Regions from separate parts of the Homo sapiens genome. Here region 1 is linked to region 2. Evidence: fine-mapped expression QTL. A gene starts in region 2. The other region holds a variant in brackets. All regions are shown on one strand. Distances are between the middles of the regions.

What was found. PIP is the estimated chance that this variant, and not a neighbour inherited with it, causes the effect.
Region 1: its variant is fine-mapped to the expression of CHADL in whole blood (INTERVAL, PIP above 0.99).

The regions. Positions count from the first base shown.
Region 1 is chr22:41,179,152-41,182,036 of GRCh38, forward strand. It overlaps EP300 (EP300 lysine acetyltransferase), which reads left to right. Exons shown (of 31, transcript NM_001429.4): 31 at 1-926. Among named protein-coding and RNA genes, the nearest start is that of EP300-AS1, 17 kb to the right of the region's middle. The variant GA/G (reference allele first, on the strand shown) is at 1,221.
Region 2 is chr22:41,239,373-41,242,286 of GRCh38, forward strand. It overlaps CHADL (chondroadherin like), which reads right to left and starts at 1,559. Exons shown (of 6, transcript NM_138481.2): 1 at 1,502-1,559; 2 at 71-248. The coding sequence starts at 1,509. RefSeq lists enhancers at 1,162-1,662, 1,663-2,163.

The DNA of each region.
Region 1 (2,885 bases), 60 kb before region 2:
TATATTTTTGTTATGGCTGGTTACCACCAGCCTTTCTTCCCCTTTGTGTGTGTGGTTCAAGTGTGCACTGGGAGGAGGCTGAGGCCTGTGAAGCCAAACAATATGCTCCTGCCTTGCACCTCCAATAGGTTTTATTATTTTTTTTAAATTAATGAACATATGTAATATTAATAGTTATTATTTACTGGTGCAGATGGTTGACATTTTTCCCTATTTTCCTCACTTTATGGAAGAGTTAAAACATTTCTAAACCAGAGGACAAAAGGGGTTAATGTTACTTTAAAATTACATTCTATATATATATAAATATATATAAATATATATTAAAATACCAGTTTTTTTTCTCTGGGTGCAAAGATGTTCATTCTTTTAAAAAATGTTTAAAAAAAAAAAAAAACTGCCTTTCTTCCCCTCAAGTCAACTTTTGTGCTCCAGAAAATTTTCTATTCTGTAAGTCTGAGCGTAAAACTTCAAGTATTAAAATAATTTGTACATGTAGAGAGAAAAATGACTTTTTCAAAAATATACAGGGGCAGCTGCCAAATTGATGTATTATATATTGTGGTTTCTGTTTCTTGAAAGAATTTTTTTCGTTATTTTTACATCTAACAAAGTAAAAAAATTAAAAAGAGGGTAAGAAACGATTCCGGTGGGATGATTTTAACATGCAAAATGTCCCTGGGGGTTTCTTCTTTGCTTGCTTTCTTCCTCCTTACCCTACCCCCCACTCACACACACACACACACACACACACACACACACACACACACACTTTCTATAAAACTTGAAAATAGCAAAAACCCTCAACTGTTGTAAATCATGCAATTAAAGTTGATTACTTATAAATATGAACTTTGGATCACTGTATAGACTGTTAAATTTGATTTCTTATTACCTATTGTTAAATAAACTGTGTGAGACAGACACCCTGACTTTGTTTCACTTGATAACACATCTTTGTCTTGGAGTACACCCGTTTTAAGTGCCTAATGCTTAGGATTCAGAGGAAAAAGTGAAAGCATTAGCTTATAGCCTCTTTAATCTACTACGTATAATGTATTCACAAGTAGATCTTGGTGAATTTATCCAAAGTTCTGGGAAAAAGTACTGCAGGTACCAGCTAACAGTCAAGGTGGAAGTGATAACCTACTTAACACCTTGATACAGGACCCCTTAAGGATGACCTCATGGTCTTCCAATCACCTTCATCTTACAGGGAT[GA/G]GAAGGAGGACCTAAGAAGACGGATCATATCTGCCTAAGTCCCAAGTAACTTCTTGGAAAAAACAAGACTTGCCAGGCATGGTGGCTCACGCCTATAATCCCAACATTTTGGGAGGCCAAGGCAGGCAGATCACGAGGTCAGGAGTTCAAGACCAGCCTGGCCAATATGGTGAAACCCCCATCTCTACTAAAAATCAGCAGGGCGTGGTGGTGGGCACCTGCCGTCCCAGCTACTTGGGAGGCTGAGGCAGGAGAATCAGATCCTGGTGGAGGTTGCAGTTAGCCAGGATCTCACCACTGCACTCCAAAGACTCCGTCTTTTAAAAACAGAGAAGATGAAGCTAGGGGAACACTCCTGTTTGCTAACTGAATACAAAGAAGTCAGTTGGAATCGGGTTGAAGGGAAGGAAAATGTGTGGAAATAAAACCTAGAAGGCTGAGAGAGATTACACATGAGTCCAGTAATATGCTAGATGCTCAAAGAATGGAGAGATTATTGATCCTCCATCTGAACATTGCAGTAGCTGTGAACAAGTTGTTAAAACAAATGTGTTAGTACACTAAAAAGTACTGAGCTGCTTTGGTATCAATTCCAGATCTTTCTTTTATCACAGAGATTTACACTAACCATATATGACTGCTAAAGGATTTCAGATACGTTGACCTGTTGCTACTATTTTAGTCTGAAAACAACCAGCATCTTTTTTTTTTAAGACAGTCTCGTCACCCAGGCTGGAATGCAGTGGCACAATTGTAGTTCACTGTAGCCTCAAACTCATGGGCTGAAGCAGTCCTCTTACCTCAGCCTCCCTAGTAGCTGGGACTCAAAGGTGTGTACCATCATGCCTGGCTGACTTTTTAAAATTTTTATAGAGACAGGGTCTTGCTATGTTACCCAGTCTGGTCTCGAACTCCTGGACTCAAGTGATCCTCCACCTTGGCCTCCCAAATTGCTGGGATTACAGGCATGAGCCACCTTACCAGCATCTTAATGTGAGGTGAACTCACTCAGCATTAATCAGAGCCAGCCCCAGAAAATGTATCTAGTATCAAGCATCCAGCATCCACCTGCTTCAGCTCAGTGACCCCGCAGATATCCATGGAGCAGCTACATCTGTGCCAGGCCAGGCAGAGCACACATGAACAGCATGCAGCCCTGCCCTCAACCTAACCAGCTTAAGGTCTAGAAGACAGCATGACAAAGTACAAAGCACCAAGTGATCTATGCAAGGAATGCAAGAGGGAATCCATGAAAGAAAACCTAGCTGATGGGAATTGGAAATGTTTCTGGAAAGGGTAGCATGGAAGCTGGATGTTGGAGGAGAGATAGGAAGAGGAGGAGAGGAGGCGGCGCCCAGAAGAGTGCACCACATTCTGCTAGGGAGCAGCTCCAGGTCTACTTGGCTGAGACCCGATAAACGGAAGTAGTGAACACCTGTTCCAGAAATACGGCCTTCCAGCTCCCTAAGACTAGGGGCCCAGGATTCATGTGAATAAACCCTCAAAAGGGAAATGTTTAGAATTCCATCCCATTTCCAAGCAGTAAATTCCCAGGTTTCAAAGCTCTGCCTCTGGCTAAAGACAGCCGGGTTGAAGTGTTAGACCAGTGCATTCTTACTGCAATGATGAAAGCAGGAAGTAGGGGCAGAAGTCATTAAATAGGA
Region 2 (2,914 bases):
CCAGGCTCCTCCCTCTGGGTCCCCACCTTGCCCCACTGCCACTCTGTGCCTGTGCTCCTGCCCTGCTGACCTCAGGGATGGCGTCTGGCACCTCAGTGAGGTTCTGGTACCGGCAGGCAACGTGTCGCCTGGAGTTGTCACAGATGCAGGCCTGTGGGCAGCGCTGGGCGGCGGCCTGCCTAGCCGGGGCCAGCAGCAGAAGTACAAGAAGCGGCAGCACCAAGGGGACATGGGTGGAGCTCCGGGGCCTGGGACGGGGAGGGAGAGTCTGTTGTGCACAAGGGCCGAGGCCACATGCTGTCCCTCACTTAGTCCCAGCCATGGTGCAGCTCCTGCCCCAAAAACCCCTCAGAGCCTCCTCCTTTGGGCCCAGGAAAGTGCCAATCACCCTGAGCCTCCCTGCCCCCCACCCCCCACGCAGTGGAGGTCCTATGATTAGTCCTGTTTTACATGGGAGGAAACCGAGGCTCAGAAAAGTGACCTGGTTAGTCCCTTTGCCTCTGCCCAATGGCTCAGTGAGGACTTGCTGACTGTGAGAATGACTCCAGTTCAGAGCATGTTCTCAGGCTGTGGTGAGGCTCTGGTCCAGGGTAGGCTCGGAAGCAGCCTGTCCTCAGACTGATATGATGCCAGCTCCCAGGTGGCAGGAGCATAATGGTACCCCCCAGAAAGGAGGGAGGCATCCAGTCCGGGTCCTTGAGTCTTTTTTTGTTTGTTTGTTTAAATAGAGACAAGCCTTGCTCTGTTGCCCAGGCTGGAGTCTGGAGTGCAGTGGAATGACTATGGCTTACTGCAGCCTTCACCTCCTGGGCTAAAGTGATCCTCTCACCTCAGCCTCTTGAGTAGCTGGGACTACAGGCACACACCACCACGCCTGGCTAATTTTTTAATTACTTCTGGTAGAGACAGGGTCTCGCTATGTTGCCCGGGCTGGTCTTGAACTCCTGGCCTCAAGTGATTGTCCCACCTTGGCCTCCCAAAGCGCTAGGATGATAGATCACCTCCCCTGCCCAGCTGGCCCCTCTGTTCTCAGCCTGTGTCAGGCATGGCCTCTCCCCCATCGCTGGGCTGTTCCCCGGCCCCCAGGAGCCTCCCCCTCGCTGCTCACTGGACTATCGTCTGTTTTGGAGTCTCCTTTGGGTCCCAGGCTCCAGCCCCTGCGTTGGAGTTGGTGGCTTCTCCAGAGCCTGTGGTGAAGGCTGTGCCTCAGGGCAGGCCAGGGAGGGGACCCATGGGGACAGATCGCTGAAGCGACAAGCATTCATAATGCAGGGACCACTGCTGGGCTCTCAGACAAGCCCCAGAGGACCAGTTCCTGGCAGTGGCCACATTGCCACGTGTCTCAGAGCCCACCTTGGGAGACCCCCTTCCTGGAGAACCCCAGGAAGTCCCCAGAGCCCCTGCCCGCCAGCCTCTGAGAGGCCCAGAGGGGGCAGAGACTTACCTGAGGCCACTGAGCTGCTCTGAATCCCCCCTTGCACCATCGGGCCCAAAGACTCACCCCTCCATGCCGCCTGGAACTGCTGGTCCAGCCTGGAGGCGCAGCGCAGGGACAGGCTGTCCCCGCCTGGCAGGAGCCCCCCTCCACGGCCCGCAGGCCTGGCAGCTGGGACAGGGCTGAATGGGAGGCATTGTCGGCAGACCAGGCAAGCCAGGCTTCCCCAGGCTGAGGTGAAGAAGGGGCGGGCGGCGGGCGGGAGCAGCGGCTGGAGTTACAGGGCCTCCTGCCTGCCCCAGCCGAGGACTGAGGCCCCGGCCTGAATCCTTGGGCCAGCCCGACAGGGAGGGGGCACCAGCAGCTGGCCCGGGAGTCAGCAGTCCTGGGCTCCCTCCTGCCATGTGGGCTGCCCTCCCAGAGGCTGCTTCCTAGTCTCTGAAAAACACATCCCATTAATAAGTAGCTCTGAGGTCACAGTGGGGGTTCAGGCCCGCACCTGGCACACAGTGGGTGCTTCAGAACAGGTGACCCTTTCCTTCCGTTTGTGCTTACACATTGACATAAATAGTTTAATACTGGACACACAGGATTCTAGACACTCATTTTTTTCACTTAACCTCAGATTACTGGGAGTTATCCAAATTGACTCTTCCGAATCTCATTATTCTGTGGTATATAGTATTCCATTGTGTAAATGTATCACATTGACTTAGCCATTCATCTTGGACATTGGCTACCTCCAATTTTTTGCTATTTACAAACAATATTGCAAAGAATATCCAAATACGCATCTTCCCAAGCTCGTGTTTGTTTTTTAAATAATACATCCAGACCATGGCCAATGTTCATGTATCTTGATTTTTCAGATTCCTGCTTCTGATGGAATTGCATCTTCTACTGTTTGTTCCTTTAATTGGAAACAGGGGTCAGGCACAGTGGCTCATGCCTGTAATCCCAGCACTTTGGGAGGCTGAGGTGGGAGGATCACTTGAGCCCAGGAGTTTGAGACCAGCCTGGGCAACACAGACTCTGTCTCAAGAGAAAAAAAAAAGGCCGGGCGCGGTGGCTCACGCCTGTAATCCCAGCACTTTGGGAGGCGGAGGCGGGTGGATCACGAGGTCGAGATCAAGACCATCCTGGCTAACACAGTGAAACCCTATCTCTACTAAAAGTACAAAAAATTAGCCGGGTGTGGTGGCAGGCGCCTGTAGTCCCAGCTACTTGGGAGGCTGAGGCAGGCAAATGGCATGAACGCGAGAGCCGAGATGGCGCCACTGCACTCTAGCCTGGGCAACAGAGTGAAACTGTCTCAAAAAAGAAAAAAAATATATACATATATATATATATATATATATATATATATATATATATATATATATATATGTATGTGTGTGTGTATACACTTATGTGTGTATATATTTATATATAATAAAAATATAAATGTATATGTTTATATATATTTATATATGTTAAACA